Linked DNA regions of Homo sapiens: region 2 is linked to region 1. Evidence: fine-mapped expression QTL. A gene starts in region 1. The other region holds a variant in brackets. All regions are shown on one strand. Distances are from middle to middle.

Region 1 (12,135 bases):
CAATACATAATCACACATGAACCAGGCTTTGGCTCCCAACTCACTTCGGGATGCAGAAGTCAAGGCTTTTTGGGCCAGTCTGTGTCCCTAAAGTAAACCCCTGGGAAGCCCAGAAACCAAACAACCCCTACTTATCAGGCGTTTACATACATTAATTAGACATCTGAGCTTTTGGAATTGCAAGACAAAAATTTGAAACTCAAAAGATGTACTTAATAAAACTGCACTGTAATTGTCTATTGACAATATAAGTGGGCTTAAGATGACCCCCCATCACCACAATCCACCACCTCCTTTTGAATTCCTCTGGAATGAGTAAATTTAGCACAAGGCCTAATATACAGCACATCTTCAATATCCCTTTCAGTTGAATAAGCTAGGAAATTTACCACAGAATTTGGAGTCTTAAACTACTTGTTGGATAACATAGAAACGAGTGATTAACAAAATGACCACAAAGTTTTTCAGAACTATCTCTAGCTTCTTATATGAAAGTTAAACTACCTTGAAATATTGTTTTCCAAGTAATTGTAATGTTTTCTGCTTCTGACCTGCATAATACTTTTAACCCTAAGGCTACAACTCTTAAAACCTGTATACATATTTAAAGACATTAAGAAAATTCAGTCTAAAAGTGGGCTTCTGGGAGTGATCTATGAGTAGGAATTGTTTACAAAACCATAAAACTCAAAGTCATATAAAAGCATTGAAACACTCCAGCTTCCTTAACCTATTATAAATATGCTACCCCTTAACTTACTCTAGGTCCTCTTCAATGCTTTTTGTATTCTACCAATGACAATAAACTCCCTCGATATTCAGTGTAAAAATCACTGTTTTTATTTGATTTAAAATTCCTCCTCTTACTAAAGAGGTCTCTCATTTTGGTTTCCAGGAATTAGTTAATACATCTATCATCTATCAAATCTGTTCATCATTTTACAGACATCACTCATACATCCCTTTTCAACCTTCAGTTTATTAACTAGTTAACTTCATCTATCAGAGCACAATTCATATATCCTTTCCTCAAACAAACCTTCCCTTACCAAAGTGCCTCTCTCTCCCAAGAGAGGTCCCCATACTAACTGTACTCAAAGTTTTGTACTTTTCCGTCTTAGCTCTTATCCACACTTTGCATTATTTATTTGTTAACTGATTGACAATTAAATTCTAATAGGTCAAAGTCTGTCTCTGCTTTTGCTTACAACTGTATATCACTAGTATATGGAATCTAATTGGTACTCAAATACTTGTTAGCATAGATTAATGAATAAATTTCCCTCTGCATTGGGTTCCTATCTTGTTTCTCTCACCTGCTTAGAAGGCACTAAATTCCCACATTAGCCCCAATCCCAAACCTTCTCCAGTCTACAGGATAAAAATAAATGAAATCTAAGATCTATCCTACCCTTCTCAGCCAACAAAACATGCATCCCTAACCTCCCAGGCGACTTTACCTAGGAAACTACATATCTTCTTGGTATTTTAGGCTTTTAACTTTGCAGTTATTACTGAATACTTTCCAAATCAGAATAAATGTGAACACCCACGTGGCAAGGCCCACATACGTTTCTCCCTGGTTATATGTTTTCTATCACTGTAATCAACCAAATGGTCTTTCATAAAGGTGGGCAGAGACTGCCCATCTTCCTTTCTGTTTCCTAGCCACAGAATCCATATGCTCTGACATCTCCCCTAAATTGGCTAGTCTTTCTGCTCCATATTCACATCAACCTCAAACCCAACCAAGCTTTAGGTAGACAGTTTTCTTATTTATCAGCAATGTGGTATAAGAGGAATGAGCACACACAAATTCTAGATCCAGATTCAGAGACCTTGAATTCCCAGCTACACTGAATCTCTCTTAGAATGATTTTACATGTATAAAATAAAATACTTATGATTACAAAGGAAACCAACTAACTTGCACCCCAGGTTAAGAACCCTCACTTAGAAAATCTAAGTTCTCTCAATGTTTTTCAAAATGAAAAAAGTGACACCTCTCATTGCATAGTTAGGCATATTTTAAAAGACAGTGTATGTAAAGTGTCTGGCAAGACAACTAGGTAGTTTTAATACCTCCATGGTTAATTCAAATCTTATCAAGGTATCACTTATTAAGTTAGGAGCAGGGGAAAGAGGATCTTCAACACAATTATCTAATATCTATTCAGCAAAAAAAAAAAAAAGTGCAGAATTAAGAAGGATTAAGATCTTAAGTGGTTTCCCAAAACTTAAGCAACATCACAGTTCTTACCAGATCACTATCTAAAGCTTAAGATAACCCTAAACCAAAAGACAGACAGGGCCCCTTTCCATATCCCAATTTTTGAGTGATTTGAAAAAAAAAAAAAAAAGTTTACCTCCTTAAAAACAATTTAAGTTTATGACTTTCAAATATTATGCTGTATTAGCCAAAAATCACATTATTTTGGTTTGGAAAAAGATGACTTTAAAAAATATATAAGAAAACCAACAAGTTGTGAGCTTTCTTCAATATTGTTCAAAAGTTTCCTATCAAAACCATATATGTCAGTCAGGCATGGTGACTCACACCTGTAATCCCGGCACTTTGGGAGGCCAAGACAGGAGGATCACTCGAGTCCAGGAGTTCTAAACCAGCCAAGGCAACGTGGGGAAACTTCGTCTCTACAAAAAATACAAAAATTAACCAGGAGTGGTGGTGCCCACCTGTGGTCCTAGATATTCAGGAGGCTGAGGTGGGAGAATTGCTTGAGCCAAGGAAGTTGAGGCTGCAGTCAGCTATGATTGTGCCACTGCACTTCAGCCTGGGTGACAGAGTGAGACCCCATTTCCAGAAAAAACAAAGCATCTTTCATTTGTGCCTTAAGGTTTGAGGTTTTACACTTAATGACATCCCCCAAAAAAGCTTCTTCTGTGGACATTTCTACAAAAAAACACTTATTTTATTTTTTGAGACAGAGTCTCAATCTGTTGCCCAAGCTGGAGTGTAGTGGCGCGATCTCAGCTCACTGCATCCTCTGCCTCCCAGATGCAGGTGATTCTCGTGCCTCAGACTCCCAAGTAGCTGGGATTACAGGTGAGTGCCACCCACACCTGGCTAATTTTTGCATTTTTAGTAGAGACTGGGTTTCACCATGTTGGCCAGGTTGGTCTTGAACTCCTGACCTCCTGACCAGATGATCCACCCGTCTTGGCCTACCAAATTATTGGGATTACAGACATGAGCCACTGCGCCTGGCCTAAAAAGACATTTAAATTCAGTAAGAACTAAAGTGACTTGACCAAGCTCATGCAAGCTGACAGATGCAGCTAGTTTCTATTCTAAATTGTGTTATTTCACCCATGCTCCTTTGGCCCACAATGAGATGTGACTTACACTGTGTGGCTTCAAAGGCCAGAGTCAACTATGATTCACTACCTATAATTGTGAAATCTGCTCTTCTTTTAATGGGTATTTTGCAAATGTGTACCTTATTAGTACCTATGAAACACCTTGACCAAATGCTCGATATTTCAGATTTTTCAAGCCAATGTTTCCCCAACAGAAAATCTTTCTGATATATGAATTAATATTGTATCTAATAAACTAATATCAAAATCTCCCACTCTTACCATACTCTCATCTCACCTGACTATATGATTATAAAGGCCATCAGAAACACCAATGAAAATGTTTCCAAGTTTAAAAGCAGGAGCACAGAATGATATGGTTTTTAGACAAATTTTTAATTACATGTCTATTTTATGCCTTGCACTACAATGCAGGATACCACTTAATTCACTACTCCACAAAGAAATTAATTCCTTGTGCTTCCACTTATGTCTTCTTATGCCTAAATGTTTGTCGAAGATCCCAAGGTCCAGCATTCAATTAAAAGGGGTAAACAGTTTTTATACCGTGCTAGAAGTTTTTTCATTTTACATGGCTTGACTGGCAGCAGATTGCACTAACATTAAAGTTTCAATGGTGTGCAAAAATGAAAGGCTAGGCATTAGTCAAGGCACCAAATTGCTGACAATAGCAGGAAATGGTACATACAGATGGCAAGGACTAATTGCCTGCTAAGGACACCTGTAAGGACTAAGAAGGGGCATTAGACGCAAGAAACAGGTAGGCTTCAAAGAAAAAAGGACAAGTTAAGGAAGCAGGGCATTAGACTCAAGAAAAAGGTAGGCTTCAAAGAAAAAAGGACAAGTTAAGGAAGCAGGGCATTCCCACCACGCATAATTATGTGAACAAAATCAGCTAGGAAGCAACTCATTTCATACTCAAGTAGAAAGAGCAGGATAAAAATAAGATTAAAGCAGTCTTTATAGCCACATCTAATTAAGATCTGTTGTTATTCCAGATGAAGAGAATGCTACTGCCTCATCAGTAGATTCTTTCTAAACTGTTTCTCCATAGGAGAGGTAATAATTTTATGATTCCTTCACTTATCCATTCAAATAGCTGAGCACACACTACATGCCAAGCAGTGTTCTCGGTGCTAGGGATATAGAGGCTAGCAAAATAAAATGCTCTAACCTCGCTCTACCTGAATATTAAAGCCTAGTGTTTAAGGTCTGGAGACAAACTCAAGTTATTTAACTTCTTTAAGCCTCAGTTTTTGACACTAAAAATGTAGTTTACCATCTAGGATATTTGTGAGGATTAAATGAAGTAATCGCCACATAATATCCATTTAATGATTATTTTTTCTTTGCTAAATCCTGATGTAACCATTTAATCATAGTTATCCACTGTTATTATGTCTTCACCTTAACTTCTCTGTAACCAACTACTAGACATATTCTCTTTTTGTCATCTAAGTAAGTGGTTTTGTTATAAAGTCTCTCTAGGTGAAACAAAGTTAACAAGCCTTGGCCTCATTAATATCATCCATAACTATCTAAACAAGCCAGTCTAGACAGACTTGTATTTGTCCTAATAATAGAAGAATGGTTACATATTACTTGAATGTTATTTATTGACATTCATCTCAGCCCCTCGCCCCACCCCCATCTCACCCCCCAAAAACTTAATGCCCCTAAACCCTAGTGTAAGCATGGTCTTAGTTACTTGGTTCCTGCCTCCATCTCACCAAGCACAAATTGGTTTTGGTGTTTTGAGCCCAGGAGTTCCAGACCAGCCTGGGCAACAAGACCCCCCAACTCTAAAATCAAGGTAAAATAAAATCCTGGTTTTTTTTAATGCAACATGGCCCCCAAACTTAACATCTGCTACTCAACTAAGGAATGCAGTGATAAATCATGACTAGAAAAGAGACAGAAGATTGGCATCTTACATGAGGGTTGAGTTGTGATGTGTACAAGTAAGGCAAAAATCCAACCTAGCCAAAATTGTTTTTGACATGAATTCCCAGTTGTCTTCAGGTTAGGCACCAAAGTGCAGTGGAGAAGACACTGGGCCCAATCTGGATTCGCAGCCTCCCTCCGCAGCTAATTATGCAAATCTGGACAAGATTCCTTTTCCTAAATCTATTTCCTCATTCTGAAAATGAAGATATCACCACCTCCTCAAAGGATGGGGGCGGAGGGAGGAGATTTAAAAAATATATACATGTGAAGTTCCTCCTAGATTGCCTGCCTAACCCAACAGGTCCTCAATTGCTGCTACAGAAGGGAAGGGAACGCCTAGTCTCTCAACATCTGCCAAAGAACTAAAGACTGGAAAGTTTAAATAAAATCTTGTTTCCATTCAAATCACATAAAAACAAATGCACTAGAGAAAATTTTATTTGGCAGGCGAAATAAACCACAACAAGCACGACTGAAATCTAGTACACAAAGCCCAGCTTACAGAAAGGTTATAAGCCCAAAGCAAAAAGGTTGGCCATTCTTGCACCACAATATATTATCTCTATAAACATCAAAACCTGATTTGGCAGGAGAATGAGCCGAATGCAGGAAAAAACCAAACCTCACAGCCTATGACAGGAGCTCTGCTGTGGCATAGCTCTTGATCACTGGCCTGATGGTTAAGAGGGCAGCTTCTGGAGTAAAACTTCCTGGGTTTGACAGAATACAGGCTATGTCAATTCCTACGTATGTGTCCTTGGCAAGATGCTTAACGTCCCTCAGGCACAGTAGTTTCATCCATAAAATGGGGGCAATATTAGTACCTACCCCCAAGAACTGCTGTAAGGATTAAACGAGATCATAGTTGTGAAGTGCTTGCCACATGGTTAAATGCTCTTCGGTCACTCCTCCTTTTCAACAAGAGACAAGGCACAACACTGAAGCTTTAAAACATGCCTAACAGCATACCCCTTTCCTACAACTCTTTGCAGATAAATACCAGTTTGGGCATACACTGTCACCCTGAAAGTGTTCAAATGAACAGTGTTTCAGAAATCAACATATAATCAACTGCCAATGCTAAAACTTGCTGCCTTTATTTGAACATAGTTTAAGAAAAAGCAAAGATGATGGCCAAGTGAAGATTCTGAAACACATCTACTAGGCAGGGTGGAAATATCTTCTGTTCTGACAAGCTTCCTTCAAGTTATCACCACTTTGGAGTCTTTGTTAGGAACCTTTTTTCAGTTATTTTCGCACAAAGGAGTCTTTGTTGGTACAATGGCTTCCTCACTGCTTGTTCCCAGACAATCCTTTCACATCAATACTTCTATTAGGGAGCACAATCAGAATTCATCTGTCTTTGAAAAGATCTAACAGAAAAAGGTTCTGAGTGTCATAATGATTTAAAAAAAAATCACTGGCCGCACTTGTTCCCAATTCTCTCCCTCCCCTCATGCGTCCAAGTGCAGTATTTCTAAGCCAGTCCTCCAATATGCCATATATGGGACAGCTCCACCCCATCCCTCCATATATGGTCATATCCCACACCCACCCACCGGCTCATCACAGACAACCAGGAACCCACTCCTGCCCTGACCCACCATATACGGACAAACACCCATCCTAATACGCCAAACAGAACTTAAGCTCCTCCCTCTACACTCACTTCATTTTTAACAAGTCTGAAAGTTTTTTTAAAAGTTGAGTGAATAAATTAACAGGAACAAACAAACAAAACCAGCTGAAAGTACTTCCAAGCACTAACCTTCAATTCTTAATGACTCCAAACGTCACTTACAGGCCCTACCTAACGCTAACAAAAATACTCCTCCTCCTCTGCAGTAAAGATGAGACAGTCCTGGTGGGACACAGCACCGGCATTAATGAAGCGTGTCTGAACAACCCTAAGCCCATTATTAAAGCCAGGCAGCCAGGAGCTGTGGGCCAAACACAACTCGGCTCTATACAACCATTCCAAAGACTTTCAAGATCTAGCTTCCTGCACCTTCAGATCATATGCCAACTTTCTGGTCTCCGTTTTCAGAAAACGGAAGGAGGGAACCGATGGTCGCGTTACCACGGTAACTGCGAAACGTCCGGTGGCAGAGGCCCGGAGCCGCCTGTACCTTCAGATCCTTCTTGGTAACGTCGGTGTGGGAAACAGCTCGAATGGTCCCGGAGAGCCAGGGCCACTCGGCGACGCGCTCCACGTCCCAGCTGTCGTGGCTGCCATCGCTGCCGTCGGCTGCGGACAGACTGAGAAACCTCCTCCCCACCAATACCGGCCAACTTTCTCCGAGCGTGAGCACCATGGTTTCCACGCCTGCAGGAAGAGCTCCTCCCTGCAAAAACACAAAAACAAAATGCGACGGGGGCGGCCGGTGGGAGGGGGCCGGGCGGAGACAGCAGGGAGGGCGGGCGGAGGGCGCCGAACCCGCGCGAGGACGCGGCCCCGGGCGGACCCGCACCGAGCCCCCCTCCTGCGCCCTCCCGCCCCCCGCCGCCCTCCCCCGCCACACACCCGGGCCCCAGCGCCGCGTGACCCTCGCTCTCCCAAGTTTGGCTTTTCTAACAGCTCAAACGCAACCGCAGAGGGAGTGAGGGAAAAATTATCTGCGGCTCGAGTGGATTTGAAAGTGCTCAGCCCCCAGCCCCGAAAAGAAAAGGCCCCTGGTGCAGAGAGCCGGTCCCGGGCGGCTGGGTCCCCGCCCCGGGCGGCCCCACGGGGGAGGGTGGGCGAGCCCGCGATTCCGCACTTGCCCCGCCGCCCCGCCCCGGCGCCCAGCTCCCCGGCCCCGAACCCCGGGCGCCCGTCTCCCGGGCCTGCGCCGCTGCCAACGGGCGACGGGGCCGCGCGCTCGGCGCTTTCACCTTTCTCTCCCCTCTCCCCGCAGCCGAGGCCGCGGCGCTCTTACCCCGCCTCCCGCCTCCCTGAGTCACCGGCGGCAGCCGCCGTTTCCAGCCGCCTAGCCGACTCCAGCGCTGACTTGGTTCAAGAGCTCTCACAAGACACGCACAGCCTCCCGGACCCGCCCCCCTCGGAGCCGCTTCCGCCGCTCATTGGCTGAAACACAGGAGCTGGGCGAGGCTCCGGGGGAAACAGATCATCACCATTGGCCCCCCGGGCGAGGGCGGGGCCAGAGAAAAAAACAATTCCTTGGCTGCCTCCTCCCTTTCCCCTCCCCCTTCCGACTCCCGGGCGACCCCCATTAGGTTAAAGTACACAGAGAATAAGCGAGTGATCCCTCCGCCATAGGCCTATTCTTTCCATTTGTTGCCTCACAGTATGCAAAAAAAAAGTCCCGCGAAATCGGTTATCAACTTTGGGGCCCGGAGGAAAATTGCTGTGGCGCATAGATAAGACTGAATGGCGAGACCCTGAGCTATAAGTGCCTACTGGATTGTTCTTCAACCGCGTAGGCTGTCGACCGAAGATGAGCCTTCCACTTGGCGGAAGAATCTCACAGGAAAGGGTGAGGGCGGTGCAGGGTTAGCGGGGGAGGGCAGGGAAGAGAACGTGCGGTTTCAGGCGTACTCAGCTAGAGGGAGGAGCGATAGTGCTCTGGAGGCTCGTGCGCAGGCGCCTCGCCGAGCTTAGGCTGCTGGGCGAAATGGCTGCGGGAGGCGCAGGCGCACGTGGTACTGATCGTGGAACGTCTAAAGTCCGCCATTTTGAAGGATAAATGAAGAAAGGCGTGGAGTTACTGGATAATGACGTTCATTAAATTTAGAGCAAAAGAGACCTTTAAATACAATGTATAATGAGATTTTTTTTTCTCCAAAGTGGGATTGAGAAGGTATTCAGATACTTACAAAGAAATTTAAAGTAGTTGAAGGCCATAATGAATGATGGAAGAGATGAAAGAGAAGGTGACTTTGAAGGACAAAGGAGTTTAGAGGTGATTGTGTGCTCTGGACCTGAAGTATTTTGATTGAATGAAAAAGAAATGGAATGAAGAAATTGAAGATATGTTCATAAAGGCTAGTGTTTGACATTACATCACATTTAATCCTTAAGAAGAACTCATGCCTCCCATTTTACAAGCGTGGAAACGTATAATCAGAGAATGTTTGGAAACATATAAGGGATTATAGATGCAAATCAACTCTGGATGTTGATTTTCAATATACATATTCTGAATGTGATTTTAAGTTTTTAAAGTTAGTAACAAGAATTAAATTGGATTTATAATCTGTAGACCATTTAAAGGAAGGGGGCTGCTAAATGAGAAGAAAAAACCTATCCAGCTGAAAGAAGGCAGAAATGGGAACGAGATAAGCAAAAGAAACCAGAACATATGGTAAAAATGTTTTTCATGTGAAAAGTCCAAACATCAGTATTTACAATAAATGTAAATGGGTTAATTTCACTCACAAGTTTTAAAAGACAGTTGGGAATAAAAGGACAATCCAGCTATAAATTGACCATAAGCAAATGCTTACAAAACAGGAAGCTTGAAAATACTGGGCTAAAATATTTAATCAAATGGTAGCCAAATGAAAGCAGTATAGCAATATTAATACAATTAAAAGTATCAAAAGAGAAAGGATTTTATATTAAAGATAAAGTCCATGAAGACAGTATGGTCTCCTGAACTGTTATGAATCTAAAAACATGGCCTATCCTAAGGTGACGCTATGAACGATGAGAAATTTTACAAATTTGACAATTTGTTTTCAGAGTAGAAGACATAAATATCTCAGAAATATGCAACTCAAATGTAAAATATAAGGGAAGATATGGAGAACTTAGATTATGTAATTAAATATTAATTTGAAAAACAACTCAAGGGAAAAATTCTATTGAACCTGAAGGAACATATACTTTCTATGTTGAATTCATTATTTCAGAGCTTAGAAAAGATGGAAAGATATCCAATGCATTTTATAAAAGTTATAAAACCGTTTCACAAATTCTGAACTGGGCGAGTATAAGAAAGAAAAACTATGGTTCAATTATACTTAGGAACATAGATGGGAAATTCTTTTATAAAATACCAGCAAATTAAATCCAGCAGCATTTTTTTTAGGTAATTGATATGATTAATTAGTGTTATATGAATGCAAAGATACTTCAAGATTAGAAAATTACTAAAATTCACCATGACAGGTTAAAAAAGAAAAATCGTATATTCACCTTAGGGCTAAATAGAGCATGCAGTCACATTGAACACTTGTGATCTTAAGAGTATTTTTAAATTACATAGAAAACTAAGAAGATTATAAGTGTACACTTATATTCAATACCACCCATAATTTTTAAAAAATGTTTTTAAACTTTCTAAAAACCTAGGAATATAAGTTACGTACCACAGAAAAACACCCACACACATATGAACGAAAAAACATCTGCAAATAACCTAAGTGTACTCCAGTTGGAGAAGGAATAAATAAAATTATTAACAATAAATGGAATGTAATGCATATATTGGAAAGTTGTAGAGGATTTGTAAAGGAGTCAAAGCAGCTAGATGTTCCAATAAAAATAGTTACCAAAATACATTATGAATGAAAAAGAAATTTGCATTTGGTACTATTTCAAAATACACATACAAAAACAACAGTATATATGTTCTGTTAAATATGGTTATTAAAACTTACAGTAATGGTTACTGGTATTAGGGGGTGCACACTAGAATTAGGGGTATTAGTCAAAGACAACACATATTATTTGTAATTCTAATTTTTTATAAATACACTTTTTTTGTATTTACATTTTTATCACCTTATTTTTAATTGACAGGTAAAACTATATGGTGTACAATATGATGTTTTGGTATAGATATACATTGTGGAATGGCTATATCAAATTATTTTACATATGCATTCCCTCACATACTCATCTTTTTTTGTGTGGTGAGAACACTTAAAATCCACTCTTAGCAATTTTCAAATATACAATATATTGTCATTAACTGTAGTCACCATGATGTACATTAGATCATTTGAACTTATTCCTCCTGTCTAACTGAAATTTTGTGTCCTTTGACCAACATCTACCCAATCTCCCCACTCCCTGTAATTCTCTCATTTTATAAGGTAAATGTACTCACATGTTACTTTTAAAATTTAATTTTTAACTCTCATTAATGGAATCTGCTACATTAACAAATTAAAGGAGAAAATACATATGATTATCTCAATAGATACACCAAAAATTTTATATACTTCATTTTCATTCATTATAAAAACTCTTAGCAAACTATCAAGAAAAGAAAATTTTATAACTCTATAAAGGATATCTACCAGAAATATACTTAAACATTGTACTTAATTGTGAAATTTTAGAAAAATTCCCAATAAAGTCAGGAGCAAGATAAGGATGCCCAATGCTGTCATTACTATTCAAGTTACAATAGAGGTTAATTGCTAATGTAATAAGACAAGAAAAATAATACAATGTAAACATTGGAATGGAAGAAAAAGCCCAAAACATTTGTAGATAAATCAAAAGCATCAGTGACAAATTATTAGAATTAAAACAAGAATCAAAAAGATAATGCAATAAAAGATCAACAAACGAAAATCAAAAGAATTCCTATTCCTTAGCAAGCATCAATTAGAACATACAGTAGAAAAATAAAAACCATTAATGATAATAAAACATGTAATCCCTAAAAATTAATACATGAAATGAACACAACCTATATGAAGAAAATTAGACTTTGCTGACATGTATAAAGAAGATGAAAAATTCTGTCTCTTGATATGATCTGATAAATATGTCATTTCTCCTCTAACAAAACAACAAATAAAAACATCAAGACATAAATATATAAGTAATGAAGAGAACAAAGAAACAGACCCAGTGTATATTAAAAATTAGTTTGTGATCGACATATTTCT
Region 2 (8,000 bases), 170 kb before region 1:
TTTGAAACTTGGAAGGGCTATGTCAAAAGTCTTGAGTTCTTTTGCTATATAGGCTGCTGCCTATAGACAACAAATACATTCTGGTTCAATAGTTAGCAGTATGTTCTTGGCTTGTAAATGATCTACTGTTTTTGATGTCCTGTTAAAGATATCCATGAATTAAGCTCCTGTAATAAATATGTGACAGAATTCATCAAAAGTTTATTCAGTTGTGGGTGTGCCAGGCCCTGTTCTGGGCCCTGAAGATATACCAGAAACACACACCAAGCTAAGGCCTTGCTCTGTCAGGCAGCTCACATTCTAGTTGGGAGAGGCAGACACCAAATAAATAAATATTTAATATAACATCAGTTAGTGGAAAGTAGTAAGAAGAAAAATAAGCAGATTAAGGAGATGAGAGTGGCAAGGAATTCTCTGGTAAGGTGACAAATGAAGTGAAGGACAAATAATGATAGTAAATGGTAGCATTATAAATTCTAGTTGCTAAATTTTTTTTCTCTGAAAATATTTTTAAACCTTATAGGTATTAATAGTTGAAAAACAACTCTTTAAAAATAGAATGTATTTCTGTGGTTTTTCTATGTATGGAAATAATGCAGTAGGACACCTGCTTAATTTTTCCAGTGATGCTCAAGGTTTGCATTGACCACCACTGTCTGGCTTGTGTTCCTTGAGGCCAGTGGCTTACATCTGTCAAATGGCTGGCCTGGTCTGAAAGAACAATCTCTGGCAGGACAACTGAGAAGAATGAGATTGAAACCCTGTCCTTGGCACTGTGAACTAGCCAGCTAAGCCAATCAGCACAGCCACCTTGGTTTAAGCCCTTAAAAGAGGGTTGTACTTTTTAAAACTATGCTTAAAATTGAAAATATCTACTAGAAACAGAAGAGAAATATTGTCTCCATTGCTTGCCATTCTTTCAGCTCAGATCATATATATTAATCTATTGTAAAGGATAACTTTCAAGAATTGTTTTTAACAATTTGAATTGTTGTTATTTTCTGTTTACAGTAGTCCCCCCTTATCTGAGGGGGATGCGTTCCAAGACCCCCAGTGGATGCCTGAAACCGTGGATAGTACCAAATCCTATATAGTCTATGTTTTTTCCTATACATACATACCTGTGATAAAGTTTAATGTGTAAGTTAGGCACAGTAACAACAACAACTAATAAAAATAGAACAATTATAACAGTATACTGAAATAACATTTATGTAAATGTGGTGTCTCTCTCTCCGAATATCTAATTGTATGTAGTATTTTCGGACTGCAGTTGACTGCAGAAAGTGAAACTGAGGGTAAGGGGAGACCACTGTATTTTAGAAGAAGCTGACTAATTTGTTCTCTGTCATTTGTTTTAAGTCTATGAGGAGTGTTTTCATAAATGAAGATGCACAGATGGCAGCCAGTTCAATCCTCTTCATATTTTTAAGCTTTTCCAGGTCCATGTTACGTATAGTCTCTGTAATGTGAACAGAATTTATTTTAGTTTTCAAGGTAGCAACATACATATGACATCTTTACCAATGACACACTATGAAATACATGTAGAACCAAGTGCTCTTTTTTCTAAGTTATTCCTAACATTGTTTTTCTCCTTTGTCCCTAACCCAAGCTCATATCTTTCATTAGCTATTCATTTAACAGTTTTGTGGATTCTTTGGCCCCAGTCTTCATAGCATTACAAATAGAAGATGGTTACTTTTCTTTCAAAAGACCCTTGGTCAGAGAGGCAGATGGCACAGTGGATAGGCTTCTGAAGTGGAGAAGTTAGCATAATTTATGGGTTTTATGGATTTATCCTCCTCCTAACATTTCTGTTTCTCCGTTTTGACTTTTGTCATAGTTCAAAGAAGGACATATTTGTTCCCTACTGGCTGTGTTACATCATATGGAATTTAAAGTCACTGGAATTGAGGTAGCAGTGAGAAGCATCATATGATTTAAAATAAAGCTTTGGGTCAATATTTACTGAAGTATTACATCAATATATTTCCTGTTTGGCTGACAAGAGTTAATAGCTGATTTTAAACTTGTTTATCTTTGCTCCTAGACAAAAGTTTTGTTCGAGGAGATTCTAAATTACGTATTTCTTTCTTGATACTGCTATGGAGGTGAAGCACATAGCAAGCCACTTTATCTTATATTTTGTATTGGTAAAAAATTTTATAAATTCTATGTAAGAATACAAAAAAATTAAAAGACCACTGTTTTTTGTCAATCACTTGTCCTTACTCTTAATGGTTTTATATAGTTTGCATGTATATACTAGGTTGGCTTATGATTTTGAAAGTAGAGACTCCCTATTATAATGAAATACTGAGAATGCAGAAAATATCATAGCACAATACTCTCATTGTTCCAGGGAGTTATGTTACTTAACTAAACCTGGATGTCGTTGTATGGAGATTAACAGTATTAAAAGGGGTATGCCACATGGTTTGATCAGTAATAAACCTCACCTCTAAATAATGGGCATTTTAAAATGCACTGAATTAAACATCTTTATGTCTGACTGAGGTCAAGAACATTAATATGCAGTTGCTTAGCAGGGTACCATTTATGCCACTGTTTGTCCAGAAAACATCTTGGTACAGGTTGCTGGGGAAGGGACTTTGATTATAACAGAAATCAAAAGCTTAAGAGTTTCCTTTAGAGACTCTGTGTAATCAGAACTAGAAGAATGAGTTATTAAACTGTAAGAAGCTGAAATTGTTTGGTTTGACATAAATACTTATTGAGCACCCATATGAGTTGGGCACTGTATTAGCTGCAGGGACTACAGTGGTGAGCAAGTGTGGGGATGCCAGAGGCAGATACCCTGGGAAAGGGAATGGAAAGATTGCTTCACTTCTAGCCTGTATTGCCAGGTCTGTTCCACACCTGGAACTCAAGCTGTACTTTGTCCAGTTTTTTTGTAGTCTTTAAAAATGTTCCCCACATACAGTGTTCCTTCCTGAGCTGCTGAGGAAAATGTCTCCCCTTTTAATGAGACCAGCCATATGAATGCCACTCAGAATCATCATGCATCCTTCTAGGATATGAGCTATAAATTGGGGACTCTTACTGGTATGACATAGTGTGTGTGTGTATATATATTATATATATATATATATAAGGCATATGTATATATATATATTAGGCTGAGAATATTTTGTTGTGCTGTGTGACTCAACCAGATGAGTTATTTTGTGAAAATATTAGCATTTTTATAGTGGTTGGTTAATTTAAACTCCACCAAATTTAATTTATGCTAAACCTTCAGTTGAATTATATAACTATGTAGGACATTGGACACATTTTTAATTGCATAAATATAACTATAAAGTAATATAAAATGCTTTCATGCAATGCCTACAAGATTTTTCATTTTTGTGTAGCTCTGTCAGTCAGGGATCCTTAAACTCTTCAAAACCAAATGCTAGAACACGTTGCTGAATAAATAAGGCCCTGGCATTGAACATTGTCTTGTACCTGCCCCAGGTATGTTCCCAACTCTTTTCACTCACTTCTACTATCTCTGCTATAACCAAGAGGTACCTGGGAAGAACCCCTCTCATTCCTCCTTCTTTTCCTAACATTGGAGCTCTTATCACATGTCTCAAAGATACCTGTGCAGTGAACAAGATCTTCACTGAAAGATGCCTCCAGACTTAGGAACTAAATATTTACACTGGCGAGGCAACCTCTAAACTCCTTGGAGCAGTGTCATTCTGCACACAGACCTGAAATGTTTGGGTTATTTGCAACCTTGATCAAGAAATGGGATAATGCCTGAAAAGTGAGTTATTTTTAAAAGAGGGCAAAGAGTAGAGAGTATGGTAGTATGATTGCACAGATACTTCTTAATCTTCCTAAGGAATCTGAAAAATAAGTTAAAC[T/G]TGTCTTTGATTATTTGACCAAAAGAACTACCAGATTGACTCTTGAGTGGTAGCAATAAAAATAAAATAAAATAAAGAACAAGAGGCAATAGGCGCCTGCTTTGCTTGATCTTCCTAATTTTCTAGGTACAACTTTTTTTTCTCTCTTTTTTTTGAGATGGAGTCTTGCTCTGTTACCCAGGCTGGAGTGCAGTGGCATAATCTCGGCTCACTGCAACCTCTGCTTCCCAGGTTCAAGCGATTCTGCTGCCTCAGCCTCCCAAGTAGCTAGGATTACAGGTGTGCACCACCACGCCCGGCAAATTTTTGTTTTTTTTAATAGAGGCGGGGTTTCGCCATGTTGGCCAGGCTGGTCTTGAACTCCTGACCTCAAATGATCCACCAGCCTCAGCCTCCAAAAGTGCTGGGATTAAAGGCATGAGCCACTGTACCTGGCCTTCTAGGTAAAACTTATAAAGTACTTTTGGACCAGAGAAAAATGTAAAGCTAGGGACTTACTGGGTAGGGAAACGTGTGAGCATCCTTCAAAAGAGCTTTCACCTATTAAGTGCATGTCCCCAGATTGCCTTCTTCCTGGTTACTTCAGCTGTCTGAGTATTTGAATAAATTGTATCTGCCTCAATAAGACCACTTATTTTCATTAAAAAGTACTATCAAAACCATGGTTGGGTGCAGTGGTTCATGCCTGTAATTCCAACACTTGGGAGGCCGAGGCAGAAGGAACCCTGAGGCCAGGTATTTGAGGCTGCAGTGAGCCATGATTGAGCCATTGCACTTCAGCCTGGGGAACAGAGTGAGACCCTGTCCCTTAAAAAAAAATGTAATATCAAAACCATTTGCTTAATGCCCTAAATTGTGTATATGTATTCATTAAGCTTCAAACTTATGTGATAAGATGTTATGTATGCACGTGTGTCTCGGTAAGTATGAGGATGGTAGTGGAGTGTCACAGAGGTTATTTGGCACATAAAGTGAACTTCAAGTCACTTGTCATCACAATGTGCTGTTTCTTCTGCTGCCCTCTGACATTTGTTAGACGTTCTAGCACAGAGGCCACAGATGAGGTGGCTGCACCACCTCTTGCGTCTCCCAAGGAGTTGACTGTCAGCACTCATTTTACACACCCACCTGCAACTTCACTTCCTGGAGGCTTTGTGAGTGTGAAAATGGTCCTTCCTCCCAGAAAGAGTAGAGGCCCCCAGAGTATTATGTTGTAATTTTGAATTGTATAGTATCAGAAATATAACATTTATGAAAATAAACTTGGCCTATATACCCTGGACTTAAACAGATGGTTTCATGATGACTTTAGACATTTTTGGCTTTCCTTTAACTTCCCATTTAGTTATTTTTATGGTCTTGTTTTTAATGTTTTTTGGTTTTTACTGGTATCTGCATTGAAATTCTGCCTTCATTAAAGGCAGGAAGATTAGGAGATAAAGGGAAAAGGTGGTAATGATTAGAAAGGCTGACACTTATAAGAGAAGTCTTGACATATTTTGAAGGTCTTGCTCTGTCACCCAGGCTGGATTGCAGTGGTGCAACCTCTACTCACTGCAACCTCCACCTCACAGGTTCAAGTGATTCTCATGCTTCAGCCTTCTGAGCAGCTGGGACTATAGGTGCCTGCCACCATGCCTGGCTAATTTTTGTATTTCTAGTAGAGACGGGGTTTTGCCATGTTGGCCAGGCTGGTCTTGAACTCTTCGACTCAAGTGATGCATCTGCCTCGGCCTCCCAACATGTTGGGATTACAGGCGTGAGCCACCACACCTGGCCTCTTTTTCTTTTCTTAAGAATCTTTTGCTTTTCCTAATCCTAATTGTGTTTGAAAGCTCTTGCAAATTTGAAGTACAAGTTCAATAATGTAAAATTCATTACATTAAAGAATGAATAAGAAGAATGGTAATTCTTATTGTATGTTAGAGCCGTTCATGATTAAGCAAAAAGCCATAGAACTAGTAGTATTTATTGATTTAGTCAAAGCACCCTTTAATAGAAAACATGTGTTTGACTCTTGGCTCCATAATTATACTTTTTAAAAAGTGAAATTTGAACTTGTTGAACCTACATGTGATAATTTTTAGTAAGCTCTATTTGGATTATTGTTTAAAATTTTCTTTTCAGAGCAAAGAGAAATTATTCCAAGGGCCATTTTCTTCCTGTGTAACTTAATTAGAGAGAAGAGGCCACATGGTGGAGAATGTGGCTAGCCTTTTAATACAGTTTTGACTCCCTCCCTCTCTTTGTAACTGCCACAGAGTGTGGGAGAGTTTAATTTACGTTTCAGTGTTTCAAGTCTTTTTCCTATTGGATAGTTGCTCCTTCTATAAGAATTGTAATGATAATGTGATGATACAGTAAACAAGAACTGGGAACAGAATATCTTTTTTTTTAAGTGAAATTATATTGTTGATGTAAACGGTTGGCTTGACTCCATTTTAGGTAATTCAAGTTTCTTTTTCTCTATTTTTGGGAATAGGTCATAGCAAATGACAGAAGTCCCTTGGTGGGCAAAATTCACTGGGAGAAAATGGTTAAAAAGGTGTCAAGATTTGGAATACGTACAGGCACATTTAACTGTTCCAGTGATCCCAGGTAAGTTGATTAGGCAATTCTTAGAATTTGAGTCCTGACCAGGATCTTTCTTATTTAAAAAGGGCAATGATACTAGAAGCCTGCTTGAACTGAAAGCTTATTATAATGTGTAGCACACTCTTAGTTACATAGGTGCTTGATTAATGGTTTTTGATAAACTGGCAGCTAATGACTTTCACTCTAAGATCTCTCTCTGTCTCCTCTATCTCCCTCTCTCTCCCCGTCCCTTTCTCTGGCTCTTCTGTGTTTTTTCTATTGAAGATATCTCTTAAGATTGTGTCTTTAGTCCTTTTCATTTCACCTTTCTTTTCCAAAGAGATCTCAGCACATTCATGGCTTTAGGTGACACCTCTGTGCTGATATAAATCTTCTATCATTCTGACCTCTAGTTTGCATTTCTTTGCTTATTTCCATTTGCTCTGCAACTATCCCTAGATATATTCTTTTCCCTGAAACCTAGTATCTGAAATCAGATTCATCCTCTTTTTCTTTAATCATCCATGTATCCTTCTACCTTTCTTTTTTCTGTCCTTCGCCGGTTTTCCCCCCCATTTTCTCAAATAAGAATCCTCAGAGGTGTTTTTGTTTATGTTTTGTTTTTTTGTCATCATTTCCAGTATTCAGTCTGTCACATTATTTCTTGTTTTATTATTCCATTATTTCTTCTTTGAAATGCCTTTTTTTCCATTTCTCTTGCTACCAAGTTATAACTTAGTCTCATTCATTGATTGTAGAAAACTCTCCTAAACCATTACTATACCTCCTTTCCTTAGCCTTACATTTACTTCTCTTCTGCTTAGAACCCTTGTTTTGCCCACTAGTAATATAGGGTGAGATGGATGGTAGAGTTCCTCTAAGAGTTGGGAATAGGAGGGAAGTTCCTGTATCTCTTAACTCACATTTAGTCTCCTTATCTACCTGCAAAGCTGTCATGCTCATCTTCACCACAAAGTCTTTTTTTCTGATTTTTTTTTTTTTTGAGACAGGATTTGGCTCTGTGACTCAGGCTGTAGTGCAGTGGTGTGATCATAGCTCACTGCAACCTCCAGCTGATGGATGGGCTCAAGTGATCTTCCCACCTCAGCATTCCAAGTAGCTGGGACTACATGCATGCATCACCACACCTGGCTAATTTTTTTTTTTTTTTTGTAGAGATGGAGTCTTGCTATGTTGCCCAGGCTGGTAACCACAGAATCTTAGTCACATCCCAATGTCTTTTGTTGAAATGTCTGAGATAGCTTAAGTCTTAATGTTCTTTTGAAAAGGAAATCATTCTGATCTCCATTCGTCATTTACCAAAGACTTAGGATTTGATCTGATTCCATCATTTCCAAATAGAGTCAAAGTGAAAGGTCTTTTTCTTCCTCACTGATTTTTACAATACTAGAACAAATGATAATGCTGATATTTTGATTTTTTTAGTTATGCCAAAAGTCAGTATTCATATCACTATTTTCTTTTAAAATACCCAATGTATTTTTTAAAAATCAGTGGAACTAAATAATACATTTCAAACATTAT

Evidence for each region. PIP is the estimated chance that this variant, and not a neighbour inherited with it, causes the effect.
Region 2: its variant is fine-mapped to the expression of KDM3A in whole blood (INTERVAL, PIP 0.92).

The regions. Positions count from the first base shown.
Region 1 is chr2:86,437,514-86,449,648 of GRCh38, reverse strand. It overlaps KDM3A (lysine demethylase 3A), which reads right to left and starts at 8,278. Exons shown (of 26, transcript NM_018433.6): 1 at 8,205-8,278; 2 at 7,416-7,631. The coding sequence starts at 7,601. RefSeq lists enhancers at 7,435-7,494, 8,485-8,564, 8,645-8,844, 8,666-9,209 and silencers at 7,695-7,744, 7,965-8,354.
Region 2 is chr2:86,610,638-86,618,637 of GRCh38, reverse strand. The region is part of intron 3 of RNF103-CHMP3 (RNF103-CHMP3 readthrough); the gene reads left to right. RNF103 (ring finger protein 103) reads left to right here. Exons shown (of 4, transcript NM_005667.4): 3 at 6,364-6,479. CHMP3-AS1 (CHMP3 and RNF103 antisense RNA 1) reads right to left here. Exons shown (of 6, transcript NR_183901.1): 6 at 1,189-1,462. Among named protein-coding and RNA genes, the nearest start is that of RNF103, 9.2 kb to the left of the region's middle. RefSeq lists a silencer at 1,297-1,346. The variant T/G (reference allele first, on the strand shown) is at 3,882.